Regions from separate parts of the Homo sapiens genome. Here region 2 is linked to region 1. A link means that fine-mapping ties the variant in region 1 to the expression of a gene that starts in the linked region. Tissue or cell type: whole blood. Region 1 holds a variant in brackets; the other region holds the start of a gene. All regions are shown on one strand. Distances are from middle to middle.

The links. PIP is the estimated chance that this variant, and not a neighbour inherited with it, causes the effect.
Region 2: FKBP1B starts here. The variant in region 1 is fine-mapped to the expression of FKBP1B in whole blood (INTERVAL, PIP above 0.99).

The regions. Positions count from the first base shown.
Region 1 is chr2:23,813,662-23,821,767 of GRCh38, forward strand. ATAD2B (ATPase family AAA domain containing 2B) reads right to left here. Exons shown (of 28, transcript NM_017552.4): 17 at 6,086-6,221. Among named protein-coding and RNA genes, the nearest start is that of ATAD2B, 110 kb to the right of the region's middle. The variant T/TAC (reference allele first, on the strand shown) is at 4,462.
Region 2 is chr2:24,045,978-24,054,083 of GRCh38, forward strand. It overlaps FKBP1B (FKBP prolyl isomerase 1B), which reads left to right and starts at 3,764. Exons shown (of 4, transcript NM_004116.5): 1 at 3,764-3,909; 2 at 7,925-7,972. The coding sequence starts at 3,873. It overlaps WDCP (WD repeat and coiled coil containing), which reads right to left and starts at 1,414. Exons shown (of 4, transcript NM_025203.3): 1 at 1,337-1,414. RefSeq lists silencers at 3,626-3,925, 7,862-8,053.

The DNA of each region.
Region 1 (8,106 bases):
ATGTGTCCAGGAGGTCAAGGCTGCAGTGAGCCATGATGGTGCCACTGCATCCCAGCCTGGGTGACAGAATGAGACCTTGTCTCAAAAATAAAATAAAATAAAAGGAAGAGAAATGGATAATAAAATAAATGTTTAAAAACGGAGGATTCAGGTCATTTCACAGCATAAACAAAATGAATTCTAACACAAAATTTAAATTAAAAGATTCATTTATTTTTAATTCATAATAATCTAAAAACCTCTGTAACCCAAAAATTATAATCTGAACCAAATAGCAAACAACCAAATGGCATAAAGAATTTGCTACAGAGCAGGGCACGGTCGAACATGCCTGTAATCCCAGCTACTTGGGAGGCTGAGTTGGGAGGCTCACTTGAGCTCAGGAGTTCAAGACTACCCTGGGCGACATAGACATCCTATCTCAGAAACAAAATTATTGAAAAAACATAAAAAGAAAATTTAATAAAAAGAATTTGTCATAAACAGGAATGGTTCTTAATGTATAAAGAGTTTATATGCATAGTTTTCAAAAACCTCCATGGGCAAAGGACGTAAAACAAGACAATTCAAAGAGAAAATAGAAATAGGAAACTTTTTAAAATGTTTATTTAATTATATAACTATAGAATGCCTCCTATGCTGAATGCCTTAGCCCTAAGTATCAAACAATACCAGTGTTATCATAGAGCTCATAACTGAGTGGTATTTAGTAAAAAAGTTAATATACAAATTACCATAGTTCAATGTGATTAATAAGGGGTACTGTTTAAGTACACAGTGCTATGGAAGATACCAATTAGAGACTCATAGAAGGCATTCCTGGAAAAGTGTTACCAAGGCAGAAACCCAAAAGATTGGAGGTACAAGAGATGAATTCCAAGACTGCAAACAGGATGTGCAAAGGACCAACAGTTAAAAAGAACATGGCTCTTTGGGGTAACTAATACAGTTCATACAGCCAGTTTTGGTTTTGTTTGTTTGTTTTGAAGTACTGGGGACAAGTTGTGGAGGGTACAGTAAAGGTACTAGGGTGGGGAGAGAAAAAAGAAGGTAAGTTAGACTATGAAGGGCTACAAAGGGTTTTGTAAGCCACGTTAAAAGTTTGGAATGTGGCCTGGCGCAGTGTCTCACACCTGTAATCCCAGCACTTTGGGAGGCCAAGGCGGGCAGATCATGAGGTCAAGAGATCGAGACCATCCTGGCCAACATGGTGAAACCCTGACTCTACTAAAAATACAAAAAAAATTAGCCAGGCGTGGTGGCAGGCACCTGTAATCCCAGCAACTTGGGAGGCTGAGGCAGGAGAATCACTTGAACCTGGGAGGTGGAGGTTGCAGTGAGCTGAGATCACACCATTGCACTCCAGCCTGGGCAAAAAGAATGAAATCCGTCTCCAAAAAAAAAAAAAAAAAGTTTGGAATGTGTACTGAAGACAATGGGGAAGCATTAAGATACTTTAGAGGAACAAGATAATCATATACATGTTTAGGGAAGATAACTCTATCTCAGCATTGTCAGTATGGGAAAGGGTTTTGAAAGAAGGCAAATGAGAGGAAAGATAATCAGGCATCTGCTATAGTAACCCAGGCATGACATGTGAATGACAGTTCAACAAGAATAGTGTTAGAGAAAGAAGGAATAGCCTGCGATGAGACTTACTTAGTAAGAAAAATCAGAAAGACTTGGTCATTGACTAGACAAAGAAAGAAATAAAAGGAAAGAAGTTGAGAATGATGTCAAATTCTAGCTGAGACAACTGAATGAATGATGGCTCATAGGAGTCACAGGAAGAGAAGGGGCGTATGATACAGTCCAGCTATGTACGGAAAGATCCATGGTACAACAAAGGGGAGATGGGCCACTGGTCAGGGTCTGAAGCTCAAGAGCAATCTAGGCTTGAGAACAAAATGGTAGTCATTAACACAGAGATTTTTAAAAAATGAGAAAATATAAATGAAAATAATGATGGACATCTTTTATCTGTTAGATTAATAAACCAAAAATTAATTGTAATGCCCATTATCAATGAGAGGATGGCAAAATTGATATCCTCACAACTAGTGGAAGAAAAGCACAACTTTTCTGAAATTATATGTGATAGATCTAAATATGCCAAAATGTATGCCCAAAAGTATTCAATAACTCACTCCACTCCTAGGGATTCCCCAGCCTCTTACTATCTTCTACATTTTTTCCCCATAGTACTTATCTTCTAACAGTTTATCTATCTAGCAAGCTATTACATTTATTATTTTACTGAATGTCTCCTCTGTTTAAAAATATAAGTTAAATGAGGGCCAGGATCTTACCCTATTTTGTTCACTGACCTACCCCAACTACCCAGGACAATGTCTGGAACATGATGGGCACTTTTACAAAACATTTGAATGAGTGAATGAATATATGAAAGAACAAATGAACAAGTCAACTAAACAAAAAGATATTATATTCATCTATCTGGTTTGTAAAGATTTTAAAAGACAGTGCTCAGAATTGACAATGGTATAAGAAAAATACTACTCTCATACATTAGTATGAGAAATGTAAACTAGTACAAGCCTTCTGGAAAGCAATTTAACAATCTGTGTCAACATGTTAAATGTATACACTCTTTGACACAGCAATTGCAGTTCTTAAAATTTACCTTATGCTTTGAATCAGATAGTGGTGTAAAGATGTATACTTAGAAACAAGTCTATTGTTCATAAAAGAAGAAACTTGAAAACTTCAAATTTTACCAATAAGGGTCTATAAATTATGGAATATCCAAAGTGTAAGATAATATGCAGCTATCTTAAAACAGTCATATTAAACATACACTGACATGAAATAATATTCCCAACATAGTGGATGAAAAAGTAAGTTATATTAACAACTTATAGGAGGATATAATCCAGATAATGTATGGGTCTATACATTATACATGCATAGAGAGGACATGGAAGTGTGGTCACCAAAACTTTAACAAATATTACCTGCAGGTGCTGGGGCTTTAATTTTTACTTTCTTCTTTATGCTCTTCTTTATTACTTGAATTTTCTACAGTGTATATCATCTTTCTAATCAGAAAAAACAAAGCTATTTTCATTTGAAAAACCTCAGAAAATTCTGTTTCTAGTCACCCTTATGGTAATATAAAGTAAGAAAGAAAATTTATTTTCCATCATAAAGCTTCTCTACCAGATTGGTAAACCTTAACTATCTTGACTTCTCCTTTATATTAAATGTAAAAAAGAAAAGGTTTCAACATTGTTTCAGGAGACTATTCCCAGAAATTCACCAGCAATACCCAGGCTAGTGTGACTGAAAACCAGCACTAAAGTTATGCTTTATTCTGGCCGAGCACCTTTTCTTCTGCATTGATCTGTAATGCTAACGTATCTTGCTCAAACAGAAAACTAAACCAACCAAACAAAAAAGACTATATGTTGCCCATACTAAAGGCCTTAATTCTAAAGTGTATGCTTCTTGGAGAGTGTGAAATATATGGCTTAACTTACCTAAAGAAGCAATGCAATTCCCTAGCTACTTATTAAGCTCAGAAATAACTTGGAAAAATATGGTCTTAGGAAACAGCACAGAGTCTGGCTCTGCCACCTGCTAGCAACAGGATCATGGGCAATTTATTTAACTTCTGTGTGCTTCACTTTCCTCATCTATAAAATGAAGATACCACAAATGCAATATGATTGTTAAGGGGCCTATATATATTACTGAATATGAAGCACAGATCTTTACATACCAAGCAAGTATCTAATTTGTAAAAAGCACTCAGATGCAAACTCCCATCCCTTCATAATGAAAAGGACAGCAAATATCACTACTTCTCCTGTGAAACCTTCCCAGACTTCCAGCAGAATTAGTTCTGCTTTCACAGCACTTTCGCCATATTGAAATGTTTGTCACCCCCAACCATGAGACCTTCTCCAAAGTAAGAACTATGTTATATCTTATTCATGCTTATGTTTTCAGCATCTCATACAATGCCTGGCATAGGGTAAACAAAGAAAAATTGGACAAATGGGTAGGTGAATAAAGAAATAAGTGAATAATTATTATTAAAACATCTAAAAAATGCTTATTCTAGCATATAGCTGTCTCATTATTTAATCAAAGTCAAATGAATGAACTAGAAAAGCTTATGTAAAGGAAGCTAAAATTAAACCAATTCTTTCAGAAAAGCTAAAACAAAATGAGCCATACCAATGTTTCACATTAAATCAGTGGCAGGAAATGTCCTCAATAAAAAGTCAAACTTAACACTGTACATGATACTTTCTAATATCAAAATCTATTTCTGTATTCCTTTATTGACGACAATTATCTTATAAAATTAAACACGTCTTTTGATACTTACTTAGTTTCTGCTACTACATAATACAAATCCAAATAACTATAACTGTCAAACACACATAAACACACACACACACACATTACACACACACACACACACACACACAT[T/TAC]ACACACACACACACACACAGAGAGAGAGAAGGAGGGAGGGAAGAAGAGAGGGAGAGGGAGAGACGGAGGGAGGGAAGAAGAGAGGGAGAGGGAGGGAGGGAAGAAGAGAGGGAGGGAGGGAGGGAAGAAGAGAGGGAGACGGAGGGAGGGAGGGAAGAAGAGAGGGAGGGGGGAGAGAGAGAGAGAGAAAGAGAGAGAGACAGAGAGACACAGACGCACAGGCTAGCCAGGTGAAAAGCAAAAAAAAAAAAAAAAAAAAAAAAATTGGCTTTCCCATAACTATCAATAAAACAAATCTGTAAAATGCTGGAATAGCCTATAAAAAAACTTCCCCAAGAGCATAAAAGAAAGGATCTGGAGAAGAAGAAAAAAACTTACAAAGAGTTTGCTATTAAAGAACATATGAAGAAAAAAAGAGGAGATGAAAGTAATTTAGGCTCATTTTTAAAAATGAAAAACAAGAAAGGGTTATCAATGCAAATAATCAAATCAACATTTCACCAAAATCTACATGGGAAAACTTCAAGTTGGAGACTTAAATTTGTTCAAAATATTAAAAGTACACACAATCCGGCCTCTTCTAATAGAAGTGCTATTAGATCTACCTGACTGAAGCTTTATGGTCCTTCAACTATGGGGCTAATTATGTAAATGCAAGTAAAGATGCTGTTAGTATTTGAAAACTATTTGGCCTCTTAATTTAAAATTACATTTGCACTAAAAGTGTTTACCTATTATAGTGCACAGCAAAACTTGCTTTAACACAGATAATAAAAGGGTAAATGTAAATTGAAAAATCATAAAATCCAAATTATGCAAGTATAATGTTTCTAGAAAATCAAAAAGTTATTTAATTACTGAACAATTTCTAAATCGAAATCTCTTTAGCAGCCTTAGAGACCTAAATGATCATCTAAAGTTTATTACAAATTAAAGTATTCCAGATCATGGCAAATATTTCATTTCTGCCCATTTTAGTTTAAAGAAAAAGCAATAAAGTTGGGGCTCATGAGTTGACTTTCTAAGGGTAAGCTTTCCTCTGCCTCCATGGGGGAAAAAATTTACACCATTACTTTAAAAAAAAGTAAACTTAGCCAGGTACAGTGGCATACGCCTATAATCCCAGCACTTCGGGAGTCCAAAGCGGGAAGAGCACCTGAGATTCGAGACCAGCCTGGACAACATAGTGAAACCCCATCTCTACTAAAAATGCAAAAATTAGCTGGGCGTGGTAGCGCACACCTGTAATCCCAACTACTCAGGAGGCTGAGGTACGAGAATAGCTTAAACTCAGGAGGCAGAGGTTGCAGTGAGCCAAGATCATGCCACTGCACTCTACCCTGGGTGACAGAGTGAGACTCTGCCTCCCAAAAAAAAAAAAAAAAGTAAAGTAGCAGGAAAGATTCTTCTACTTGGAGAAAAAAACACCTAGGTAGTTAACCAACAAACTAACTATTACCACATGAAAAAGAATACATAGTAAAAGTTTTCCAGAATTGTGTCCAAACAACAGAAAAACAATATCCTCACAGTTATAACCATAAGTAAAAATATACCATAATTCTAATCATAAAGTATCAAAAATCACTCTAAATACAAAGAAAGTTGATATAAATCACTCACATTGTAAAATGAAGGTAGGGTTTATGTATAGCAGCAGATGATGACTGTTTCTTTGGTGATCCTGAGTGACAATTGGTCTCAAAAATTGATAAAGCATTTTCATCTTCACTATCCTCTAAAATTAAAGTTTCTATATCTGTTTAAAAAAATCACAATGGTTATGGGGCTTATAAAGTCATTTAATATTCGTGCCCTACCAAAGCTAAGAAAAATTGGGTTAAAAAATCAAATGACATTAATAAGTTATCTATCAAATAATACAGGCAAACTGACAAACTGCAGCTTTTAAAATAACTTATAAACAAAATTAATATAACACTTTCACCTTTACAGACTATTTACTTAAGTGTTATGAGATATAATTTGGAAGAACTCACTGACTGGCTTAAAAAAAAAAAACAAGTCTGGAAAAGATGTGGCACTCTCATAAAATCCCACCTATTTAACTAAAAATCTCTGAGTTAATTTTGACCAAAACCAGTCCATTTCATATTTGGTTTAATTAGTAGGTTAGCTGAGTCAAGGCCAGTTCTTATAAAAGCAACAAGGAACAAACTGACCCTTATTTTTTAAAGAGGATACACCTTTTCAAAGAAGTCTTAGTGTAGTTAAGATGGAGTCAGAAATTCCGTCAAAGCTAATCTTAAAAATACACTCATTCATACAGCATTATTCTCTCTGTGGGCCTTAGGTTATCACTCAGGGAACTAACTGGAACTAAAATCTCTACTGAGAATGCAACACTTAAAGCCTTACCTGGACTACCACCTGAAGTATGAACAGCTGTTGCTATACTTCAAACATGCCTAATTAAAACTGACAATTCATTCAATAAAAAGCAATGCTACATGTGTACGGGATATGAGAGAGAATTAAGATTAAGAGAAATCATATCCTTTCAAAATAAAAAATATACAGATGCATTCTAAAATGAGATGCTAAATTATGCTAGCAGATAGAGATCTCAAGTGGCTTTTAAAAGCTAAACATTTAATCGAGACCATCCTGGCTAACATGGTGAAACTCTTGTCTCTACTAAAAATACAAAAAAATTAGCCGGGCGTGGTGGCAGGCGCCTCGTAGTCCCAGCTACTCGGGAGGCTGAGGCAGAAGAATGGTGTGAACCCAGGAGGCGGAGCTTGCAGTGAGCCAAGATTGCGCCACTGCACTCCAGCCTTGGTGACAGAGCCAGACTCCGTCTCAAAACAAAAAAAAAGCTAAATATTTAGTACAAGTCATAGTTTAATCTGGGAAATAACTGAGTATCTTTTGAGTGATAATTTCATACACAAGGAAATATTTATCTAAGAAAAATATTAAAGGTCAAAACAAGCCAGAATAAATATGACTAAATAGCTAAAAACCAATTATTGATAATCAAATAAAATTTGGTTGCTCTTCTCCACTGGTTCATGGCAACTAGTTCTACCAACTGGAACTAAAGCATACTTTATATTTACACACAAAAAAAGCTATAAGAAAACATAGATAATAATGCTATAAAATGGTAATTCACAAATGGAGATAAAAAGCTATGATAATCTCTCCAAAGGAAAGATGAGGTTTTTATGATTTTCTAAAGGTGACGTAAGTTTTTTGGGACGTTTTGGTACATAACATATATATGAAATACATTTCCAGTTATGAAATTCAGAAATAAAAAATACACAAATCATGGCATCGTGCCTGGCTCACAGATATTCAGTAAAATATTCATTCCCCTCTGTCTGCCAAATTTAAGAAATCAGGTATTCCATGTGGTATCTTATGTGAGTCTGTCACTAAACAATTAAAGTTTCTGAAAAATATATTTATGACAGAAGAATTCATTGAACAATATTCATAATTTTTACTATATATATTTTTAATGTTAGTATAATTCTCTGAATAATTTTCTATTTGGTGCAGACTGCATTCCAGACAAGGTGCTAGGAACTGCAGAAATTAAGATAATCAAAAGACATTACTTTCCCTTCAAAGTTTATGAGCTTTATACTCTGATTAGAATGTCAATGTAATTT
Region 2 (8,106 bases), 230 kb after region 1:
TGGGTGCAGCGTCCCACACCTGCAGTCCTAGTTACTATGGAGGCTGAGAGGATTTGAGCTCAGGAGTTCAAGGTTACAGTAAGCTATGATCACACCACTGCATTCCAGCCTGGGTGACAGAGTGAGACCCTGTTGGGGAGGTGGGGGTGGGGGCAGTAGGGGAGGAACGTGTGTAGTATGTGACAAATTGAAATTAACATGTGCTTCATGTAAGATGTCTACATGGTACCAATGTACCTTAGGCAGTCAGAGGTAAGGATTTGGAAATCACTGACATAGGGTTAATCATTAAAGTCAAGGTAGTGGAGAACCTCACTGTATAAGATCAGAGGGCCAGGAGGACCAAGGTTTAAATGCTCTTCAGGCATTCCCCAACGCTACTGATTTTGCCTGAAACTAATTGTATACCTATTGTTTCACAATCTCCAGAGTATAAGTTTTTTGGAGAACATGAAATCAAGAACCCTGGGTGTTTTAGGAGGGAAAAGACCACTGTATTAGTTCAGGTCTCCGGAGAGGTGGTCAGAAAACTAAGAGCCGGTGCTCAGTATATAACCATTTAATTCTGTTTTTCATCTTCTTTAAAGACAACTCATGACGAGAATCAAGGGATTCAGGTGAACTGGCATTTCCAGCAGGTTTAAACAAAAGTACATCCCTCCCCCAACTTGTTTTCCAAGTTTATTGTATTTCCACTATAAAATGATTTCAAGTTCTTTACACTTATTTGGAAACAAAAATCATACACAAGAAAAAAATTAAGAAGAGTTAACGAAAAAACATTCATCCAAAGAAAATTATGACTAATCCCTCTAGACTCTTCTATGCATAGTTTGGCTGTCAAACTTTTTCAGTTATACTGTGCAACTTTGTATCACGGTTTTCATCTAACATTATATATTAGCATTTCCCTATGTTATTTAAAAGTTTAATAAATTAGTTTTAGAGGCCACTTCACATACACTCAGTGAAGTGACATAATGTACTGAACTGCTCCTAGCTGTACCCAACTTTATCCCGCTACCCGCTATAAATAAAGCTCGGACCGAGGTCTTAAGGCTTAAAGCATTTCCTGACTTTGGATGACTTCCTTGGGACATATTCCCAGGAGTGTTATTCACGAGTCACGGTCATAATCCCTCATTTACACCCACCCCTAGCTCGATCCTCATCCCGCGACCCCTCACACGCGGCCCGCCCCATTCTCCTCATCCTCTCTGCACGCCTGAATCTCCTCCTTCCCGCCCCCTACCCACCAAGAGCCGATCCACTTCCCTCCTGACCCCCTACAGCCTCCCCACACCCGCCAGGCCCGGCAGCAGTGGAGATGAAATACCTTAGGTCTCACTGCCTCACAAAAACACCAATCTCTCTGTGGCCGCCCAACATCACGCCGCCGCACATAAGAAGTTCTGGGCAGCCACCGGAAGCACCGGCCCTCAGTCCTCTGATAGGTGGGCGGTGATATCGGTCCTCTGATAGGTGGGTGGTCCTCTGATAGGATAGGCACGCTCCGAGATGGCCCCGTCTATTGGCTTTTGAATATGCACATTAGCAGAGGGTTCGTCCCACTGGCCAATAAGCTCTGGCTCTGCCGCACGGATCGCTGGGAGTGGTAGTCCCCGTAAAACCACCGACCGCAAGCCCGCCACATTTTCCCTCCCTTAAGCACTTGAGCTCTTTCCCCACTTCTCGTCGGTTCTCTTGTCTAAGGAGTCCAGGAGCCCTAGGATCACCACGGCTTTTTAACCTTCTTTAAAATCTGATAAAATCTCTCAGGAAAATGTTCTTATCTGTACACAAAATACTGTGCATTGAGCTGAAGCCGCTGCATGGGCCTGTCCCAGCTACAAATCCCTGTTCTACCCCGACCCTAAGCGTGCCTGCTCTGGCCGCAGCCTATGGATTTAGTGCGTCCCTTAGGCTTCTTCAGACCTATGAGGAATTCCAGGTCCTGACCCTCACAGTACAGTCGACAATCATCTTTCTTTAACAACACAGCCAGAACACCTTCAGGGATGCAGACAACCTCATCTGGGACCTAAGCATCCGGGAGAGTGGGGATGAGGAAATGGAGGAAGAACACCCTTGGGGCTCATTCTGGACCAGTTTGCCAGGCTTTTCTCCCCATGCCTATCTTCCAGTGCCACTCAGGAGAATCATATCTTCACATCAGTTTTTATGTTTTTCTTTTTCTTTTCTTTTCTTTTTTTAAAAATAAAGATGGCATGCCTGTAATCCCAGCACTTTGGGAGGCTGAGGCGGGCGGATAACCTGAGGTCGGGAGTTCGAGACCAGCCTGGCCAACATGGTGAAACCCTGTCTCTACTAAAAATTTAAAAATTAGCCGAACGCTGGTGTCTCACGCCTGTAATCCCAGCTACTTGGGAGACTGAGGCACGAGAATCGCTTGAACCTGGGAGGCGGAGGTTGCAGTGAGCCGAGATTGTGCCACTGCACTCCATCCTGGCGACAGAGTGAAGATTCTGTCTCAAAAAAAAAAAAAAAAAAAAGGAGAGAGAGAGAGACGGGATCTCGCTATGTTACCCAGGCTGGTCTTGAACTTCTAGGCTCAAGCAATCCTCCTGCCTCGGTCTCCTACAGTGTTGAGATTACAGGTGTGAGCCATTGTTCCAAAAATTGATATACTTGGCCTCACATCAATTTTTGGAACAATGCAGGTAATAATGAGGGGGAAAAAATTTTAAAAGTCCCAATTACCCTTTAAACAAATATTACCTCCTCCAAAAAATATTTTTCTAGATTCCTGAATGTATTTTTTGGTGGAGGAGGAACTCAAAGTAGAATTCATTTACATATTCATTCATTCATTCCACAGCACTAATCACTCCATGCAGTAACTGTGTGTCCCCGTCCCTCTCAGACTTAGTACCTGGAAGACAGCCAACCTGTCTTAATTCTATTGGTATCCCCAGGGCGCATTTCTTTGCCTTGAAAATTGAGTACCCAATAAATGTGCGTCGAGCAGAACTACACGAGATGGAGAACAGGGGTTTAGGGGTATGGGGGAGAGTCAGCAATTACTGGTGTCCTCCCTCCCTCCCCCAGCTCTGCTCCTACAGATCCAGGACGCCTAGCGAGGGTAGGAACCTCTTCTGTGCTTCCGCAACGCTCTGAACTGCACGGCACTGAGCGCATCTAATTAAAGTGATGGTTTCATTAGATAGCAACACAGCGAGACCCCGTTTCTACAAAAAATAAAAATAAAAAATAAAAGATTAGCTGGGCGTGGTTGCTCGCGCCTCTAGTCCCAGCTACTTGGGTGGAGGCTGAGGAAGAAGGATCGCTTGAGCCTAAGAGTTCGAGGTTGCTGTGAGCTATGATCGCGCCACTGGACTCCAGCCTGGGCGACAGAGCAAGATCCTCTGTCTAAAATAAAAATAAAAATAAAATGATGGTTTAATCGCCGGCCTTTGCCCCTTCTGCCCCCCACCCCCCACAAGTCTGTAGGACTGGGTTGACTTCCCAGAGCTTACTACAGATTAGATGCTAAATAAATGTCTATTGGACGGATGCGCGAATGAATGGATGGATGGAGGATGTGGTTGTGCTTACCACGCTCCCTGGTCAGTGGGTTAATGTCGTCAGGCGGGGCCAGGCTCGCTAACAGCCGGGCGGGGTCCCTTCCCCCGGGCCCCGCCCCGGCCGACCCCACCTTTCCGCGCGGCTCCGCCCCGCCGCCCCCTTGCCAGTGGCCCCTCCCCGCGCAGGTCCCGACTCCAGCCGCACCTCCTCCGGCTCTGCAGTGGCGGCGAGGAGGCGAGCCGGAGCGACGGCGGGGCTGGGGCCGGAGCCGAGCCGGGGTCGGGCAGCAGCAGGGACCCCCCAGAGGCGGGGCCTGTGGGACCGCTATGGGCGTGGAGATCGAGACCATCTCCCCCGGAGACGGTACCGGGCTCCCTCCGGAGCCAGGGGAGGGGAGGGGTCCCGGGGCGGAGCCCGGAGGGCGGGGGTCTGATTCGGAGGTGGCGTGGAGGGTGCTGAAGGGTCGGGGGGCTGGATGGGGAAGGCAGGCGGAGACGCCGGACGGGATTCTTGGGGGTCTAGGAGACCATCCTCCGCCATCCTCTTCCGCGCTCACCTAGGGGAATGTAGGCGGCAGCTCGGAGGCGGGGGTCTGCGGCCCGGAGGCGGGGGTCTGCGGCCCGCCACCGCCCCGGGCTTCTCCTGTCGCGGCTGCAGTCGTTCGGTTATCCGCTGCTGCTGATACCCCAGCCTGGGTTTCGGCTTCGCTTTCCCTGCCCTACTCGGCGAGCTCTGGAAAGCAGGACCTGCTCTCGGATACCCGCTGCTCGGGGACCTCCTCCTAGCGCGTCCCCCGCCGGGCCTCCCCTCGGTCGCTTCCCTGCGGGCCGGGCTGTGAGCGGCTGTGGGGACAGACCCAGGCTGGGGAAGGGGGAAGCGCTCCCTTGCCCGCTTCCGGATCTCGCTTTATCCTGCCGCCGCTTTCAGACTCCCTGGCCACCCTGTCCACTCCCATGGCCTCCACATTGAAGCTTCTAAGCCCAGCCCTGCGACCTACGGCCGAACCTCTCCCTGGACGTCCCAGGGTGCTCCCTGGTCAGCAAGTCCAAAACAGAACTCTCGCTTCCCACCTTCTCTCCTAAGTGATCCTCTTTATCCCCCTTCCGTGTCTCACTTTCCCAAGTCCTTGTATTACTGGGTCTGGGTGTGCAAGGAATAGCCATTTCTTTATTTCTTGAAATTTAATTAATACCAAAGCCCCCATTGTCTGCAGGGTTTGATGGGCAAACTTCATATCAGATATTATTAATATGAACAGCTCCCCTCCCCAGGAAATTGGATAACTTCTTGGCTCCAGGCCATCTTCCTTGTCCAATCCCAGCCACTACTTCAGATATCCCCTGGAGTACAGGCTTCTTTGCCCACGCAGGAAACATTGCTGCTGGGTCCCAGAAAGCATCTCCCTGAGGCCTTTTCATCCCTCAGCAGCCCCTGAGCTAATCTCCCCATCTTCAGTCTCTCCTCCCTGCTTTCAATCTCGTCCCCAATCTCATATTCACTCCCTTTCTATATCATAGCCTGAAGACTCTTCTTAAAATGCAGTGGCTCACGCCTGTAATCCCAGCACTTTGGGAGGCTGAGGCGGGCGGATCACAAGGTCAGGAGTTCGAGACCAGCCTGACCAACATGTTGAAACCCCGTCTCTACTAAAAATACAAAAATTAGCTGGGCATGGTGGTACGCACCTGTAATCCCAGCTACTCGGGAGGCTGGGGCAGGAGAATCACTTGACCCTGGGAGCCAGAGGTTGCAGTGAGCTGAGATTGTGCCATTGCACTCCAGCCTGGGTGACAGAGCAAGACTCTATCTCAAAAAAAAAAAAGAAAAAAAATGCATGTTTGACTATGCCCCTCCCTCAGGCAGAAGATGTTTTAATGATTCTTCCCTCTCCCCCAGGAGGGGCCTTTGGTGCTATGGTCTATTCTCATCTTCCACACTAGAGCTTCATCTCTCACCACCTGTCCTAAGCCCACCACTAACTTTTTCCTCCAGCTTTCCCAAGCTGCCTGCAAGTTGTCAAACACACCACTCGTTCAGCAAATATTTATTGAACGTGTGTGCTAGGCCCTAAGGTGACACAGTTGAAACAGACAGGGTTCCCGCTATTGCTGGACTGAGGGCCTTTGAACATGTTACATGTTGTTCCCTCTTCCCAGATGGTGTTTTTTCACTTCCTCTGGCAAACTCTTACTTGTCTTTCAAGACCTGGCTTCACCATTCTCTCCTCTATGATGTTTTCCTTGACTTCTGTGGTCAGTTAGCTGCTCCCTCCTCCAGGATCCCATAGAGTCCTCTAAATATCGGCTCTGTGGTTAGGCTTCCTTAGGCTTTGTATCCAGCCCCGTAGCTTTAAATTCCAGCCAAATTTATACCTCCAGTGCAGACTCTTCATCTGCCTACTTGCAATATAAACTCAGATGTCTAATAGGCATCTCAAGATTGCCACCCGCACAAATCTGTTCCTCCCGTCTTCCCTATCTCAGGAAATAGTTGCACTATTCATCCAGTTGCCCAAACAGAAAACCCAAGCATCGTTCTTGTTGTCTCCTTTGTCCTCATCCTGGACCCCATTTCCAGTCTGATTGCATGACCTGTCAGCTCCGCTTCGAAAATATGTCTCCAATCTTTCACTCTCTTCTCTGCTGCCACCACCTTAAATCAAGCTATCATTGATTTCTTGTCTGGATTATTGCAACAGACGCCTAACCGTCCATCCTACACATAGCAGCCAGAGTGATGTTATAAAATCTTAATTCAGATTATGTCATTCTCTGGCTTAAAACCCTCCAGTGGTTTCCTATTGCACTTAGTATTAAATCCGGCTCTTCAAGCCCTGCATGATCCATGTCCTTCCCACCTCTCTCCTCCCTCCCTTCTTTCCAGCACCTAGCCTCCTTGCTCACTGCAAATGTGTTGATTCTGTGCACTTGTTACTCCTTTCCCAAGTGCTATTTCCCAGTATTTTGCTCATCCTTCAAGTCCCAGCTCCAGGGGGCACCTTCTCCAAGAGGCCATCCTGGACCACTCTGTCTGAAATGGCCTGTCCCACTGCATCTCCCTTTAATACATCATTGTGTGTATTTTCTTTAGAGTATTCATCATAATCCATAATCATTTTGTATATTTAAGTATTGTCTCTGTCCATTAGAATATAAACTCCAGGGCGGGTTTGGTGGCTCATGCCTATAATCTCAGCACTTTGGGAGGTTGAGGTGGGAGAATCTCTTGAGCTCAGGAGTTCAAGGCCAACCTGGACAACATGTTAAGACCCTGTCTCTACAAATTTTTTTTAAAAAAATTAGCTGGGCATGGCAGCATGCACTTGCAGTACTAGCTACTCAGAAGGCAGAGGAAGAAAGATTGCTTGAGCCCAGGAAAGGTCAAGGCTGCACAGAGCCGAGATCATGCTGTTGCACTCCAGCCTGGGTGACACACTGAGACCCCTACTCTTAAAAAAAAAAAGTAAACTCTAAAAGAACAGGGATAGAGATCTTGTTTGTAGTGTTCACTGCTGTATCCCTGTGATCAGGCACAGGCTTGGCACACCATAGGTACTCAGTAAATATTTGTGGTTTTGTTTTGTTTTGTTTTGTCTGTTTGTTTATTGTGACAGGGTCTTGCTCTGTCACCCAGGGTAGAGTGCAGTAGCATGAACACAGCTCACTGCAGCCTTGACCTCCTGGGCTCAAACAATCCTTCCACTTCAGCTTCTTCAGTAGCTGGGACTATAGGTATGCGGCACCACACCCAGCTAATTGAAAAGATTTTTTTTTTTTTTTTTTTTTTTTAGAGATGGGGTCTCCCTATGTTACCCAGGGTGATCTAGAACTCCTGAGCTCAAGTGATCCTCCCACCTCAGCCTCCCAAAGTGCTGAGATTACAGATGTGAGCCACCATGCCTGGCCTCTCAGCAAATATTTGTAAATTATTGTGTTTATTCATCTTTGATGGATGGATTATAATCTGCATTGTAATCTGGTATTTGTGTGTCTGTTTCCCTACCTTCCTCATGAGTTCATACATTGCTCTGCATGTCTGAAGTCTGGTCCAGGCCTGGCACATAGGAGGCCAACTGTAAATGTCTGTGGAATGGATGATGTGAAGTAAAAGGGGCAATCAAAGAAAGTGGGGGTGGGGTGGTGGGAAAGCCCAGGAGACAGCAGAATTGAGAAAATTGAGGGGGTAAAGTAAATCCAGGCCAGAGAGGTGACGTGATTCATTCTGGCTCGTACAGGGCCCAGAGCCAGAACTAGGGCCACAGGCATCTCCATGGCATGGAGGGGAATGCAGGCTGGAGCTCTTGGTCAGGATCATACTTAATGTCCCAGGTGTTTTTCCAATATCCTACTCCTTCATCTGCCCTCATGTCTCCCTGCAGGAAGGACATTCCCCAAGAAGGGCCAAACGTGTGTGGTGCACTACACAGGTAAGTCTCACCCCCTCAGCCCCCACCCAGTCCTTCCCCTCCCAAGGCAGGGCTGTCCTCTGAGCTTCTCTCCAGAGGTGCCTGCCTCTGGATCAGGGCTAAAGCCCAAGGCAGCAGGGTCTCCCTGTGACCAG